2 separate regions of the Homo sapiens genome follow, and region 2 is linked to region 1. The links come from fine-mapping of genetic effects on gene expression. A gene starts in region 1. The other region holds a variant in brackets. All regions are shown on one strand. Distances are from middle to middle.

The links. PIP is the estimated chance that this variant, and not a neighbour inherited with it, causes the effect. A credible set is the group of variants that fine-mapping cannot tell apart.
Region 2: its variant is the best candidate, but not a certain one, in a credible set for the expression of HIP1 in whole blood (INTERVAL, PIP 0.82).

Annotation. Positions count from the first base shown.
Region 1 is chr7:75,734,604-75,742,927 of GRCh38, reverse strand. HIP1 (huntingtin interacting protein 1) reads left to right here and starts at 3,987. Exons shown (of 31, transcript NM_005338.7): 1 at 3,987-4,127. The coding sequence starts at 4,008. RefSeq lists a silencer at 3,210-4,199.
Region 2 is chr7:75,787,693-75,796,016 of GRCh38, reverse strand. It overlaps a transcript of CCL26 not described here. Among named protein-coding and RNA genes, the nearest start is that of CCL26, 20 kb to the right of the region's middle. RefSeq lists enhancers at 6,755-7,613, 7,614-8,324. The variant A/C (reference allele first, on the strand shown) is at 3,177.

The DNA of each region.
Region 1 (8,324 bases):
AGGCAAGAGAATCACTCGAACACGGGAGGCGGAGGTTTCAGTGAGCCGAGATTGTGCCACTGCACTCCAGCCTGGGCAATAGAATGAGACCCTGTCGTGAAAAAACAAAAAAAGAGAGAGAGAGAGATTGGGGTATTCATCCCCCAGCTGCCTCCCTGCCACGCCACTTTCCACAGTGACTGTGGGTTTTCTACCTAAGGTCACAGCTCTGGGAAAATGCCTACTTTCCCATGACCAGAGCCCCCACCAGGTTACAGCACAGCTCCCTCCCCTTTTCTCTTTAGGTCTAGAGATGGTAACAGCTTCCTGGTGTTCCAGTAATATCTGGTGCTTTACCTGTCCCGGTTGATTCCCTTAACTCAGGTCACACCTTTGTACATAGTTCCTTCTCTTTCTTTTTCCTGAGAGAGGGTCTCGGTCTCTCAGGCTGGCGTGCAGGGGTGCAATCATAGCTCACTGCAGCCTCGACCTCCTGGGCTCAAGGGATCCTCCCGTCTCAGTCTCCTGAGGAGCTGGGATTACAGGTGTGCACCATCACACTTGGCTCACTGCAACCTCCACCTCCAGGGTTCAAGCGATTCTCGTGCCTCAGCCTCCCAAATAGCTGGGATTACAGGCGCGTGCCATCACACCCTGCTAATTTTTGTATTTTTAGTAAAGACGGGGTTTTGCCACGTTGCCCAGGCTGGTCTCGAACTCCTGGCCTCAAGTGAGCTGCCTGCCTTGGCCTCACAAAGTGCTGGGATTACAGGCATGAGCCACTGTGGCACGGCCACAAAAAATTTTTTAAAAATTAGCCAGACATGGATGGGCATGGTGGCTCATGCCTGTAATCCCAGCACTTTGGGAGGCTGAGGCGGGCAGATCACTTGAGGTCAGGAGTTCGAGACCAGCCTGGCCAACATGGTGGAACTCTGTCTGTACTAACAATACAAAAATTGGCCGGGCATGGTGGCATACACCTGTAATCCCAGCTACTTGGGAGGCTGAGGCAGGAGAATAACTTGAACCTGGGAGGCAGAGCCTGCAGTGAGCTGAGATTGCGACACTGCACTCCAGCCTGGGCAACAGAGCGAGAGTCTGTCTCTTAAAAAAAAAAAAGGAAGAAACTATGTACAAAGGTGTGACCTGAGTTAGGGGAATCAACCAGGACGGGTAAATTGGCAAAGCACCAGGATTTGCTGGAACAGCAGGAAGTCACTACACCCTATCTCTAAATAAATAAATGTTTTTTAAAAATTGAGATTTTTGTTTGTTTGTTTTTTGTTTTTTGCTTTTTGGAGATAGAGTTTCACTCTGTCATGCAGGCTGGAGTTCACTGGTGCGATCTCAGCTCACTGCAGCCTTCGCCTCCCAGGCTCAAGTGATTCTCCAGCCTCAGCTTCTCGAGTAGCTGGGATTACAGGCACATGCCACCACACCTGGCTACTTTTTTGTATTTTTTAGTAGAGACAGAATTTCACCATGTTGGCCAGGCTGATTTTGAACTCCTGGCCTCAAGTGATCTGCCCGCCTCGACCTCCCAAAGTGCTGGGATTACAGGTGTGAGCCACGGTGCCCGGCCAAGGTAATTTCCTCTTCCTCTGTCAGCGCCCCTACCGTGCTCCCACGCTCAGTTGTCATCTCCCTCTCCCTAGACATGAAAAATCAGGTGACATCTAATCTCTCCCAAAGCAACACAAGGGAGGGGGCACTCCCAAAGCCTCCCACAGAAACACAATTTAAGTAAAGGTGAAACCAGTCCAGTCCTTCCTATGCAAATGTAGCCTGAATGGCACCGCCATTGCCCATCCCCCAATCCCTGTGTCCAAGCCTTATTTGCGTAACCTCCCACGGGACAGAACTTCCTCCTCTCCCTTCTCTTCTAGGCCCTCATCATCTCTCATCTACGCTAGAGTCTCCCCACTGATTTCCTCCCTTCCATCAGGCCCCCATAATCCATCCCCACAATACAAGCTCCTCAGTGCACACATCTGAGCAAAAGTCTTCAGTGGCTCCTTAGTAACCGCAAATGCCCACCCCTCTTTCACTTCTCTATTGAATGTGTGAATTTTTACCAAACGCTCTTATTAAAAAAAATAAAAACAAAAACAAAAAAAAAACAGGCAGGGCAGGGTGGCTCACACCTGTAATCCCAGTGCTTTGGGAGGCTGAGGTGGTAGGATCATTTGAGCCCAGGAGATCATGACCAGCCTGGGCAATCCAGCAACATACCCCTCACTACAAAGAAATATGTATATATTTTTTTGAGACGGGGTCTCGCTCTGTCTCCCAGGCTGGAGTGCAGTGGCGCGATCTCTGCTCACTGCAACCTCTGCCTCCCTGGCTCAAGTAATCCTCCCGCCTTGTGAGTAGCTGGGACTACAGGCTTGCACCACCACGCCCAGCTAATTTTAAAATTTTTTGTACAGATGGAGTCTTGCTATGTTGCCCAGGCTGGTTTCAAAGTTCAGAGCTCAAACGATCCGCCTGCCTCAGCCTCCCAAAGCGCTGAGATTACAGGTGTAAGCCACCGCACCTGGCCAAATTTACAACACACACACACACACACACACACACACGAATCACCAAATTGTTAGGCCTAAAGGTGCCATTCATTACTCCGAGTTTCAAATAACTTTTAAAAAATACATCTATGCCGGGTGCTGTAGCTCATGTCTGTAATCACAGTACTTTGGGAGGCCAAGGTGGGAGGCTTGCTTGAGGCCACGAGTTCGAGACCAGTCTGGGCAACATAGAAAGACTCCATCTCTGCAAAAAAGATAGCCAGGCTTGGTGGCGTGCATCTGTAGTCCCAGCTACTCGAGAGGCCGAGGCAGGAAAATCGCTAGGACCCAGGAGCTCAAGGTCCCAGTGTGTTACGATCTGCACTCCAGCCTGGGCGACAGAGGGAGACTGACTCCAAATGAAACCAAAAAAAAAAAAAAAAACAAACAAAAACAAAAACAAAAACACACCTAAATTGGAGTTTAACGGAAAACTTTTAACTTTCTCCAGCACTCCTGCTAAGCATCACACTTCTCTCTGCTTGCTGGTACCCTGGCTGACGTCTGAGCAGGATGGGACGCGCGGCTCAGAGCCTAAGATAAACCGAAAGTGTCTACAGGGCTTTCTACCAACAAATAAGCTCTGACGGGTTCCTTTGATGAGGTTTGGGAGGCAGGTCCCGGGAGGTGCCCGCGGACTCAGCCCCGAACTCCGGGACCTGGGCTCTGCGATCCTTGCAGAGGGCATGGGCAGGGGCAGAATGGAGAAGTGCAGGACGGGGAAGCCTGGGAGCTGGGTGGGGGCGGCCACCCATTGAGCCGGATCCGGCCAGGCGCCCACGCTGCGCCCCGCCCGCGGGGCTGCGCTTTCCCGGGCTGCGGCCGCAGGGCTGGTCAGTCCGGCGCTCCCGGGTCCCAGGCCCGGAAGGAGCTAACGGGCTATTCGCAGGCGGGCTGGGATTCCCCCGGGGGAGGCCCCACTGCCCGGCCCGCGTCATCCCCGCCCATCTCCACGGGCCGTCGCGGGATAGCCCCCTGCAGGAGCGGGCAGGGTAGTGGGCGGCGCTTGGCGGAGGGCAGCACGCTCGGGGCGCGCGGGGACTGCGGCCGAGGGGAGGAGAGGGCGGTGCGCGGGCGGGGGCGGGGCGAGCGAGGGCATATCAGGGCAGCCCGCCCAGGCCACGCCCCATCCAGGCCTCGCCCCGTCCGCACCCCGCCCCGGCCCTGCCTAGAACGGCGGGACCACGGTGACTGACAGGACTCCAGACCAGTCACCACGCGCCTCGAGGCCCCGAGAGGCTAGTCGGGGCCGAGCCAGCGGAGGGGCTCCTGAAGGGGCGGGGGCGGGCGGGGAAGCCGTTCGGCGAGGGGCGGGGTCTCTGGAAGACTGGCAGAACTCACAGCCAATGGCAGGCGGGAGCCGTCCCGTTAGCGCCGGATCCCCGCGGGTAGGGCGGGGCGGGCGGCGCCGTGGGGATCCCGGGGCAGCCGAGGGCCCCTGACTCGGCTCCTCGCGGCGACATGGATCGGATGGCCAGCTCCATGAAGCAGGTGCCCAACCCACTGCCCAAGGTGCTGAGCCGGCGCGGGGTCGGCGCTGGGCTGGAGGCGGCGGAGCGCGAGAGCTTCGAGCGGACTCAGGTGAGGACGGGGGACCCCGGGGCATCCCTGGGGCACCCTGAGGGACGCGGTGTCCGGGAGGGGCTTTGAAGGGAGTAGGAGTCTTGCAGGCCCCAGTTGAAGACGGGGCGAGGGTGTAGTGAGCGGGGGCATTGACGTGCAGATCTGGGCGATCCCAGGAAGGTCGGGGACCCCAGGGTACCCCAGCTGGCCTGGGGAGAAGGGCAGAGGCGGGCTCGGAGGAGATGGCAGGATGCGTGGCCAAGAGGAGCCTGATCGGCTGGGTACCGGGCAGGAGTCCCAAGATGAGGTGAGAGGGGAAGGAACTGAAAAGGGGCGGAATGGAAGGGTTGCCCCTAAACAAGGGAAGCGCACGGGAGCCACTTGGAGGCTCAAGTGTGGGGGCGGAGAGTGGGGGCGCCGGGCTGGGAATGTGAAGGGTGAGGGGACCTCTCTTCCCCTCCGATCACTTCTTGGTTGCATTGACATCCCTTCCCACCCCCCACCCCTTAGCATCCCCCTTTCTCGATGCCTCTTGCTTGGCTCTGGCCAGCCCCAGCTGTCAGCTCTGAGGCCGGGCGGAAGGGGTCGGAGCAGGGAAAAGGAATGTAGGAAATGCAAAGTGTGGCCACTTTGTGGGAAAATTACTTTGGGGGCTAAAGTGGAGACCATGGTGCCCCTGAGCCCTGACTTGGGGTCTTGGTTTTATCCCCCAAGATGTGCCTGACAGCTAATAGGCAGACTGCCCTATTTGTCCTGCCTGGCCAGGGCTTGGGGCCAAAATTCCTCAGTGTCATCAACAAAAAGCCACAATCCATTTTTTTCTCCGAGTTTTTAATGCCTGGTGTATTGATTGGGCTGAATTAAGCTGACATGTTGATGGTGTTCATCAATTCATTTGTATGTAAAATCCATTTCAAAGAGTACAACGCTTCTTTTAATCCCAGTGCCAATGCTGGAGGGGCAGATTTCTTCTACACTCTTGTGCTCAGAGTGGAACCTTTGAAGATCCATTTGGGTCCCCCTCTCCAGAGGCTGGTCCCCTGATGTGTTATGCGAGGAATACTTCCCCCAAACACAGTTGGAGGGAAAGGGCTTTGGGATTTTAGTTAGAAAAGACAGTGAGAATCTGACTGAAGGTTCTGTATATGGAATCTTTCAAAGAATAGAGCTTTTGGCCGGGCGCGGTACCTCACACCTGTAATCCCAGCACTTTGGGAGGCCGAGGCGGGTGGATCACCTGACGTCAGGAGTTTGAGACCAGCCTGGCCAACATGGTGAAACCCTGTCTCTACTAAAAATACAAAAAATTAGCTGGGCGTGGTTGCAGACGCTTGTAATCCCAGCTACTTGGGAGGCTGAGGCCAGCAGAATTGCTTGAATCTGGGAGGTGAAGGTTGCAGTGAGCCGAGATGGCGCCACTGCACTCCAGCCTGGGCAACAAGAGCGAAACTCCGTCTCAAAATAATAATAATAAAAAAGAATAAAGCTTTTCACCCCCAGAGGACTTCATCCCCTCTTCTTATTCTGAAAACCTTTGGCCCCCCACCTGGGCAACATAGTGCGACCCTGTCTCTACAAAAAATAAAAAAATTAGGCTGGGTGCATTAGCTCACACCTGTAATCCCCGTACTTTGGGAGGCCAAGGTGGGAGGATCACTTGATCCCAGGAGTTCGATACCTGCCTAGACAACACACTGAGATCCCGCCTCTATTTTGAAAAAATTTTAAAATTATCCTCGTGTGGTGGCATACACCTATAGTCCCAGCTGTTTGAGAGGCTGAGGCATGAGGGTCACTTGAGCCAGGAGGCTGAGGCTGCAGTGGGCTATGATCGTGCCACTGCACTCCAGCCTGGGTGACAGAGTGAGACTCTATCTCTACAAAAAAGTGAAAAAAAGAAAGAAAACCGCGCGCAGGTGTGTCTGGATAGTGTGAAGCAGTGGGACCCTGTCTCTACAAAAAAAAAAAAGAAAAAGAAAAAAAGAAAGTGCCTCCATGCAGGTGTGTCTGGATGGTGTGAAGCAGGGAGTCTTCTCTACCTGGTTATCCTACCCCAGGAGGGAAGTGGGAAATGGTCATTTCACTTCTGCCTCCCAGGATCCAGCTAGGTTTGAGGCTTGTTCTCTGGTTTCATGGACCCGACCCCTGAAAAGAAGGAAGTTTTCCATTGGTCTTGGATGTTAGTGCCTCTGCTAGCTGCCTAGTTACATGAGGCTTCTTGCTCCATGAAACAGTGTGTATATTCCTTTTATTTTTATATTTTCATAGAGATGGGGGTCTCACTGTGTTGCCCGGACTGGTCTCAAACTCCTGGCGTCAAGTGATTCTTCTGCTTCTGCCTCCCAAAGTGCTGGGACTACAGGCATGAGCCATGGCACCCAGCCCTATTTTTTTTTTTAATAAATGAAATAAGAAAATAAATAGATATTATTTTTTAACAACCCGTTCCTTCTAGAGTCTCAAATAAGTAAAAACTAGAGCAATAGAGAAATATGCGTAAGACTTTGACCCATAATAGTGATAGAAATTAGGTTTGTGAAAGTTTCCACCCGTGAGTGGTATGTTTCCCTGCTATCCAGGGACGGCCCAACAGGAGAGTCTAGGTCAGTGTTTTCTGGTGTTTTACATTCTGTGGGACATTTGTGATTGGCCAGATTTGACCTGGGTGGGGTGGGTGGGGGTGAAGTAGAGTGGAGCAGAAAAAGAGAATTTTTCTGATGTTGAAACTCTTATTTTTAACTTTTTTTTTTTTTAAGACGGAGGTCTCACTGTGTTTTCCCAGGCTGGTCTTGAACTAGCCTCAAGCGATCTTCCCACCTCAGCCTCCCAAAGTGCTGGGATTTCAGGTGTGAGCCACTGCACCCAGCCTCTGGTGTTGAAACTCTTTAGGGGTGTAGGAGAGTAAAGAAAAAGAACCAGCCTGGACAACATAGTAAGACCCCATCTCTACAAAAAATAAAATTAGCTGGTTGTGGTATCACGTGCCTGTTGTCCCAGTAACTTTGGAGGTTGAGGTGGGAGGATTGCTTGAGCCCGGGAGGCAGAGGTTGCAGTGAGCAAAGATTGTGCCACTGCATTCCGGCCTGGGCAACAGAGTGAGACCCCATCTCAAATAAAAAAAAAAGAAAAAGAAAAAGAAAAGAAAAGAAAAGAGAACAGCCCTAAACCCAACGTTAGTCAATCTGCAAAAAAATTATTTTGTTTAATGACTACCTATCAAATGTATTATGAGGTTGCAGAGCTTGGTAAGCAAAGGGAAAAAAGGGGAAGAATGTATTATGAGATATAAAAAATGAATTAGAAAAAATTTAATGAGTTAGGAGACCATGAGAATCAGCCAAGGTATAATAATAACTAACTAATTATTGTGTTTGGCAGTATTCTAAGGACATCATTGTATTACCTTTTTAAATCTTGACAAGAACGGATGAGGTGGGTATCAGCCACATTTTACTCTCAGGACGATTGAGGCACAGAGAGGTTAAGTAACTCACCAGAAGTCACACAGCTGGAAACGGTCTCAACCTTTACCCACTGCCTCAGGCAGCCTCTGAGTACTGAGCAGATGCTGGCATTGGAGTTAGAAGGCATTTGAGGCTTACAGCTGGGCATGTACATGGGCCTTGTGGTCTCTGGGAAGTTGTCTAACCTTTCTAAGCCTCGGTTTCCTTATTGTCAAATAAACATAATACTTACCTGGCTGATTTATTGTGGGGATTCAATTAAGCCCAATATGCCTGAAGGCATTTTGTAAACTGTGGAGCACTAGTTCAGTGATTATTGTTATAATCTGACTGGGGAGACGAACCCGAGACAGCAGAAGTGTGAGCAATCAAGCAGGCTGTGATTAACTCTTCCTTAGAGGGATAGATGTGGTACTAGGTAATGGGATAATTACCAAGAGCACGTGGATAAAGCACAGGCTTTGGGGTTGGGAGCCCTCCCCGAGGACTGAAGCACATCTTGTAGCATGAGTTAGTGCTTGCTGGGTGGAGGAGGGGATGGGGCATTCCAGTGACAGAAGAACATAAATAAAGAGACATCTAGACTAGGCAGATAAACTTCCCAGCGGGTGCAGTGGAGACTCATTGGCTGGGGTAGACAGAGAGGCAAAATTGGCCACTCCCTCCTCTGAACTATAGCAGGGCTGGTGACCTCTCCTAGTTCCTGTGACCTTGTGCTGGCATCATTTCTCTCTGTGGCCCCCATTGAACA
Region 2 (8,324 bases), 53 kb before region 1:
AGCTGCTATTTGCCCTTGGCTCTGATATGGTCCTGTAACTACAGAGTAGTTTTAGCTTCGGGACAAAGCCTGGCGGAAGCCACCCTGAAGGTTCATTCTCAGCGTTAAGGGTTGGGGGGTAGGACTCTGAGACTGTCAGAGGCAGGACAAGGCACAGGCATGACACAGACCCAGCTCTGAGCCTTGGTTCTGCCATCCATGAGTTTTGTGGCCTTGAACAAACCACAGTTTTCTAGGCTGTAAAAGGGGATAAGAAAACCTCCCTAGGCCGGGTGTCATGGCTCATGCCTGTAATCCCAGCACTTTTGGGGGCCGAGGCAGGTGGATCACTTGAGGTCAGGAGTTCGAGACCAGCCTGGGCAATATGGTGAAACCCTGTCTCTACTAAAAGTACAAAACTTAGCCAGGCGTGGTAGTGCATGCCTATAGTCCCAGCTACTTGGGAGGCTGAGGCAGGAGAATCGCTTGAACCGAGGAGCTGGAGGCTGCAGTGAGCCGAGATTGCACCACTGCACTCCAGCCTGGGTGACAGAGGGAGACCCTGTTTCAAAAAAAAAAAAAAGAAAGAGAAAAAAAGAAAGAAGAAGGCAAGAGAGCAAGAAAGAAAGATAGAAAGAAGAAAGCAAGAGATCAAGAAAGAAAGAAAGAAGAAAGCAAGAGATCAAGAAACAAAGATAGAAAAAGAAAGAGAGAAAGAAAGAAAGAAGGAAGGAAGGAAGGAAAGAGAGAGAAAGAAAGAAGGAAAGAAAGAAAGAAAGAGAAATAAAGAAACCACTCTCCTAGAACCGCTTTCAGGGTAAATGGATTAACTGGTAACAAACAAAAAAGTTTGTTTTTCTTCCAACTCCAGGAGATACGGTTTTTTAGTTGTTTGTTTGTTTGAGACAGGGTCTCACTCCGTCACCCAGGCTGGAGTGCAGTGGTGTGATCGTGTCTCACTGCAACTTCAACCTCCTGGCCTCAAGCGATCCTCTCACCTCAGGCTCCCCAAGTAGCTGGGACTACAGACATGTGCCACCATGCCCAGCTGATTTTTAAGATTTTGTAGAGACAGGGTTCCACTATATTGCCCAGGCTAGTGTTGAACTCCTGGGCTCAAGTAATCCTCCTGCCTCAGCCTCCCAAAGTGCTGGGATTACAGGTGTGAGCCACGGCGCCCGGCCGAAACATGTTTTTATTCTCCTGATTCGGCTTGGTCTCTGTTGCACACAAGCCAGGATGCTGCTTCCTCCAGGAAGAGCTTCCCAGGGCTGGGGAACCCCTCCTAACACACTGTGCCTCCTCTGGCTCCCCTCACTAGCTCCCCATGTGTAGGTCTCACTGGGACAGCAGACAAGGGAGTTTCTTTACATCCACTCCTTACTTCTCTCTTTTTTTTTTTCCTTTTTTCTTCTTCTTTTTTTTTTGTTTGAGATAGAGTCTTGCTCTGTTGCCCACGCTGGAGTGCAGTGGTGCGATCTCGGCTCACTGCAACCTCCGCCTCTCAGGTTCAAGCAATTCTCCTGCCTCAGCCTCCCAAGTAGGTGGGATTACAGGCACGTGCCACCACACCTGGCTAATTTTTGTATTTTTAGTACAGACAAGTTTCACCATGTTGGCCAGCCTGGTCTCAAACTCCTGACCTCAAGGGATCCACCCACCTCAGCCTCCCAAAGTGCTGGGATTACAGGTGTGAGCCACTGCACGCGGTCTCTCTTTCTCTTTCTCTCCCTTCCTTCCTTCCTTCCTTCCTTTCTCTTTCTCTCTTATTTCTCTCTCTCTCTCTTTTTCTTTCTTTCTTTTTTTTATTGACAGAGTCTCACTATGTCGCCCAGGCTGGAGTGCAGTGGCACAATCTTGGCTCACTGCATTCTCTGCCTGCTGGGTTCAAGAGATTCTCCTGCCTCAGCCTCCCGAGTAGCTGGGATTACAGGTGGGCACCACCACGCCCAGTTAATTTTTTTATTTTTAGTAGAGACAGGGTTTCACCATATTACCCAGGCTGGGCTCGACTCCTGACTTCAAGTGATCTGCCCACCTAGGCCCTCCAAAATGCTGGGATTACAGGTGTTACCCACCTCACCTGGCCCGCTTTCTTTTCTTTCTTTCTTTTTCTTTATTTCTTTCTGTCTTTCTTTTCTTTTCTTTTCTTTTCTTTCTTTCTTTCTTTCTCTCTCTCTCCCTCCCTCCCTTCCTCCCTTCCTTCCTTTCTTCTTCCTTTCTTCCTTCCCCTTCCTTCCTCCCCTTCCCCTTCCCCTCCCTCTCTCCCTCTCTCTCTCTCTCTCTCTTTCTTTCTCTCTTTGTTCTTTCTCCACTTATGCTCAAATTCTATACTCACCTTTCTTAAGGACAGGGATGGTGTCCTGTCCACCACGGTGTCTCCAGAGCCTTGGACATTGCTGGGGCTGTAAGAATTCAGCAAACATTTGGCTGGATGCAGTGACTTATGCCTGTAATCCCAGCACTGTGGGAGGCTGAGGTGGCCAGCTCACTTGAGGTCAGCAGTTTGACACCAGTCTGGTCAACATGGTGAAACCATATCTCTACTAAAAATACAAAAATTAGCTGGATGTGGTGGTGCGCACCTATAGTCCCAGCTACTCGGGAGGCTGAGGCAGGAGAATTGCTTGAACCCAGGAGGTGGAGGTTGCAGTGAGCCGACCTGCACTCCAACCTGACAGAGCGAGACTCCATCTCAAAAAAAAGAAAAAAAGAACGAGCAAACATTTGCCACATAAATACATTCCAGAACCCTGTGCTGAAGGGTTATGGAGACAAAAGGAGGCTTCATGCTGGGCCTCCACATCCCTCTGTCCCTCTCTAGTATTGTGTCCTTACAGCAGCCAGACTCATCTTTATCAATGAGTCCTCTCATCGTGTGACTCCCCTGCTTAAAACTCCTTACTGTTGGCCGGGCCCGGTGGCCCATGCCTGTAATTCCAGCACTTTGGGAGGCCAAGGCAGGCAGATCACTTGAAGTCAGGAGTTCCAGACCAGCCTGGCCAACATGGTGAAACCCCATCTCTACTAAAAATACAAAAATTAGCCGGGCATGGTGGTGGGCACCTATAGTCCCAGCTACTTGGGAGGCTGAGACAGGAGAATTGCTTAAAGCCGGGAGGCAGAGGTTGCAGTGATCCAAGATCGCACCATTGCACTCTAGCCTGGGTGACAGAGCAAGACTCCATCTAAAAAAA[A/C]AAAAAACAAAAAACAAAACAAAACCTCTTTACTCTCTCCCTGTTACACTTATTTATTTATTTATTTATTTATTTATTTATTTATTTATTTATTTATTTGAGATAGGGGTCTTGCTCTGTTGCTCAGGCTGGAGTGCAGTGGTGTGACCACAGCTCACTGCAGCCTTGAACTCCTGGGCTCCAGCAATCCTCCTGCCTCGGCCTCCCAAGTAGCTGGCACTACAGGCATGTGCCACCACGCCCGGCTAATTTTTGTATTTTATGTAGAGATAGGGTCTCACTACATTGCCCAGACTGATTTCAAACTCCTGGGCTCAAGGGAGCCTCCCGCTTGAGCCTCTTGAGTAGCTGGGACTACAGGCGTGCGCCACTATGTCTGGCTAATTTTTATTTTTTATAGAGATGGGATCTCACTATGTTGACCAGGCTGGTCTTGAACTTCTGGGCTGAAGCAATCCTCCCACCTGGGAGTGCTGGGATTACAGGCATGAGTCACCCATGCCTGGTGGCTTCTTTTCTTATAAGGACACCTGTCATATTGGATCAGAGTCCCATCCTTATGACCTCATTAAAACTTACAGCCAGGCATGGCGGCTCACGCCTGTAATCCCAGCACTTTGGGAGGCCGAAGTGGGTGGATCACCTGAGGTCAGGAGTTTGAGACCAGCCTGGCCAACGCGGTGAAACCCCATCTCTGCTAAAAATACAGAAAGTATCTGGGTGTGGTGGCGCATGCCTGTAGTCCCAGCTACTCGGGAGACTGAGGTAAGAGGATTGCTTGAGCCAGAGGAGGCAGAGGCTGCAGTGAGCTGAAATCGTGGGTAACATGCCTGGGTAACACAGCAAGACTCTGTCTCTAAATAAATAAATAAAAATAAAAACAAAGTAGCCAGGTGTGGTGGTGCATGCCTGTGGTCCCAGCTGCTTGGGAGGGTGAGGTGGGAGAATCACTTGAGCTTGGGGAGGTGGAGGCTGCCGTGAGCTGTGATCACACCTCTGCACTCCAGCGTCGGTGACAGAGTGAGACCCTGTCTCAAAACAAAAAAAGGATGGAAAAAAAACCTTACTTACTTGTTGAACTTCTGGGCTGAAGCAATCCTCCCGCCTGGGAGTGCTGGGATTACAGGCATGAGTCACCCAGGCCTGGCTTCTTTTCTTATAAGGACATCTGTCATGTTGGATCAGAGTCCCATCCTTATGACCTCATTAAAACTTACAGCCTGGCACAGCAGCTCACGCCTGTAATCCCAGCACTTTGAGAGGCCGAGAAGTGGGAAGCCCAGATGGCAGCCTAGACCCTGGGAACCACAGCAGATGGGGGCTCCTGGGAGATCCACACAGAGGAATCTGGAGCCCAGGAAGCAACCTGGAGGGTACAGGGAAGGGGCTTCAGCCACAGGGAAGGGCCTGGAGGGAAGAGAGCAGGAGCCAGGGCCGCCAGCTATGGGCTGACATCAAGGGCATACTCAAGGTCCTGACTGAGGGGGCCTCGGACACAAGTACCAAGAGGGAGTTTCAGCCAGGCGTGGTGGCTCACACCTGTAATCCCAGCCCTTTGGGAGCTGAGGCGGGTGGATCACGAGGCCAGGAGTTTGAGACCAGCCTGGCCAACATGACAAAACCTTGTCTCTACTAAAAATACAAAAATTAGCCAGGTGTGGTGGCGGGTGCCTGTAATCCCAGCTACTCGGGAGGCTGAGGCAGGAGAATTGCTTGAACCCGGGAGGCAGAAGTTGCAGTGAGCCGAGATCGTGCCATTGCACTCCAGCCTGCGTGACAAGAGCAAGACTCTGTCTCAAAAAGAAAAAAAGAAAAAAAAAAAAAAAAGGAGGAGTTTCAGCAGAAGCCATTTATAGACAGACATGCCTCTTGGGTGAAGGGACTCAAATTTTTTTTTTTTTGAAATGGAGTCTCTATCGCCCAGGCCGGAGTGCAGTGGCGTAATCTTGGCTCACTGCAAACTCCACCTTCCAAACTCAAGCTATTCTCCTGCCTCAGCCTCCCGAGTAGCTGAGACTACAGGCACTCACTATCACACCTGGCTAATTTTTGTATTTTTAATAGAGACGGGATTTCACCACATTGGCCAGGTTGGTCTTGAACTCCTGACCTCCAGTGATCTGCCTGCCTCGGCCTCCCACAGTGCTGGGATTACTGGTGTGAGCCACCATGTCCAGCCTCAAATGTTTTATAAACAGGGTATAATCACTTACCCATACAGGAGGAAAGCTGATAAATAAAACTATATTAAAATCCATTAGAAGACATCCATAAGAGGCCAGGCACAGCAGCTCCTGCCTGTAATCCTAGCACTTTGGGAGGCTGAGGTGGGAGGATCACTTAAGTCCAGGAGATTGAGGCCAGGAATTCAAGACCAGCCTGGGCAACACAGCAAGACCCCATCTCTACAATTTTTTTTTTAAGTTAGCAGAACATGGTGGTGCATGCCTGTAGTTCCAGCTACTCAGAAGGCTGAGGTGGGAGGACTGCTTGAGCCCAGGATCTTGAGGTTGCAGGGAGCTATGATTGCACCACTGCAAAGAAAAGAAAAAGAAAAGAAAGAGAGAGAAAGAGGTATGGAGGGAGGGAGGGAGGGAGGATGGAAGGAAGGAAGGAAGGAAGAAAGAAAGAAAGAAAGAAAGAAAGAAAGAAAGAAAGAAAGGAAGGAAGGAAGGAAGGAAGGGAGAGAGACAGAAAGAGAGAGAGAGAAAGAAAGAAAGAAAAAGAAAGAGAAAAGGAGGGAGAGAGCTGGGGAAGAAGGAAGAAAAGAAGGGAAAGAAAGAAAGAGAGGTAGGGAGGAATGGAGGGAAGGAAGGAAGGAAGGGAGGGAGGGAGGGAGGGAGAACCGTAAGACGTAGAAAGGCAATCTGTGGGATGGGAGATTATTTCTGCAATACATCTGTACTGGGTTGAATAATATACCCCAAGAATTCATTGTCCACCCAGAACCTCAGAAATGTGAGTTATTTGGGAATGGCTGTTTGTAAATGTCCTTACGTAAGCCAAGAGGAGGTCTTGACTTGGGGTCCCAGGGGTACCGCAGATCCCAGGGACTGGAGCAGCACTAGCAAGCTCTGGAGGATGAGCCAGGAGTCTGGAATTGAGGCTGAGCCAAAGACCCCAGGTAAGGGTCAGGGACTTTGTTTCTGGGAACCTGCCAGGTTGGGGTTTGGAAGGAAGTAATGGGCCTTGTTTGGTGGTGGGGAGGGGGGCAAAGTGTGGGGGTTTCTCATTGCAGAAGAGAATTTTCAGAGGATAGACTCCATTGCCAAAGGCAGGGAAAGGCAGAAGTATGGAAAACAGCTGGGGTCTGACATGCTGTAGGCAGCCAGCACTTTCTCTTGAAATGAGAAACATTCTGGCAAAAAAAAAAAAAAAAGAGAAAAAGAGAAATGGATGTTCCCAGAAGAGTGGCAAAGAGAGAGAGAGAGAGAAATATTCTCATCTCAAGGAAGGAGGGAGAGAACGTAGGGAGGCCATGGCTCCCATATTACATTTCCTTAACTGCAGAATTATTTGTTTTGTTTATTCGCCATATCATTTCATTCCTCTTTACTAATTTATTGAAATATAATATACATATAGAAAAGTACGCAGGCCAGGCACGGTGGCTGGCACCTATAATCCCAGCACTTTGGGAGGCTGAGGCAGGAGGATCACTTGAGGCCAGGAGTTTGAGACCAGCCTGGGCAACACAGAGAGACCCCCCCGCCCGCCACATCTCTACAAAAAAAAAAAAAAAAATCAAAAAATGAACTGGGCACGGTGGTGCGCACCTGTAGTCCTGGCTACTCGGGTGGCTAAGGAGGGAGAATCCCTTGAGCCTTGGAAAGTTGAGGCTGCAGTGAGCTATGACAGCATCACTGCACTCCAGCCTGGGTGACAGAGTGAGATCCTATCTTAAAAAACAAGAAAAAGAGAAAAGAAAGGTATGCAAACTCTAAGAGTACAACTCAAAGAATTTCCACAAGGGTTAAAAGGTGAACCAGCACCCAGATAAAGGAACAGAGCATACCAGCCCCCAGAACGCCCCCTTGAAACCGCTTTAAGTCAGTTGCCCCAAAGGGTGACCACTCTTCTGACTCCCATCTTTTTTTTTCTTCTTTTTTTTTTTTTGGACGGAGTCTTGCTCTGTCGCCCAGACTAGAGTGCAGTGGTGTGATCTTGGCTCACTGCAATCTCCACCTCCCGAGTTCAAGGGATTCTCCTGAGTAGCTGGGATTACAGACGCACACCACCACACCTGGCTAATGTTAGTACTTTTAGTAGAGATGGGTTTCACTCGCGTCCATGTGAAGAGACCACCAAACAGGCTTTGTGTGAGCAATAAAGCTTTTTAGTCACCTGGGTGCAGGCGGGCTGAGTCCAAAAAGAGAGTCAGCCAAGGGAGATAGGGGTGGGGCCGTTTTATAGGATTTGGGTAGGTAATGGAAAATTACAGTCAAAAGGGGTTGTTCTCTGGCGGGCAGGGGTGAGGGACACAAGGTGCTCAGTGGGGGAGCTTTTGAGCCAGGATGAGCCAGGAGAAGGAATTTCACAAGGTAATGTCATCAATTAAGGCAAGAACAGGCCATTTTCACTTCTTTTGTGATTCTTCAGTTACTTCAGGCCATCTGGATGTATACGTGCAGGTCACTGGGGGATACGACGGCTTAGCTTGGGCTCAGAGGCCTGACATTCCTGTCTTCTTATATTAATAAGAAAAATAAAACGAAATAGTGGTAAAGTATTGGGGCGGCGAAAATTTTTGGGGGTGGTATGGAGAGATAATGGGCGATATTTCTCAGGGCTGCTTCGAGAAGGATTAGGGGCGGCATGGGAACCTAGAGTGGGAGAGATTAAGTTGAAGGAAGATTTTTGTGGTAAGGGGCGATATTGTGGGGTTGTTAAAAAGAGCATTTGTCATATAAAACGATTGGTGAAGGCCCGGATGCCGTTCTGTATGAATTGAGAAACTAAACGAAAGACACAAGTTCCGAATAAGAGAAGGAGAAAAACAGGTATTAAAGGACTAAGAATTGGGAGGACCCAGGACATCCAATTAGAGAGTGTCCAAGGGGGTTTAGTGTAATTACTTGTTTGGTTGGTGAGTTTTTGGGCTCTGTTTTTGACAGAGTCCTTTTATTTTTTTTTTTAAGTTGAGAGGCT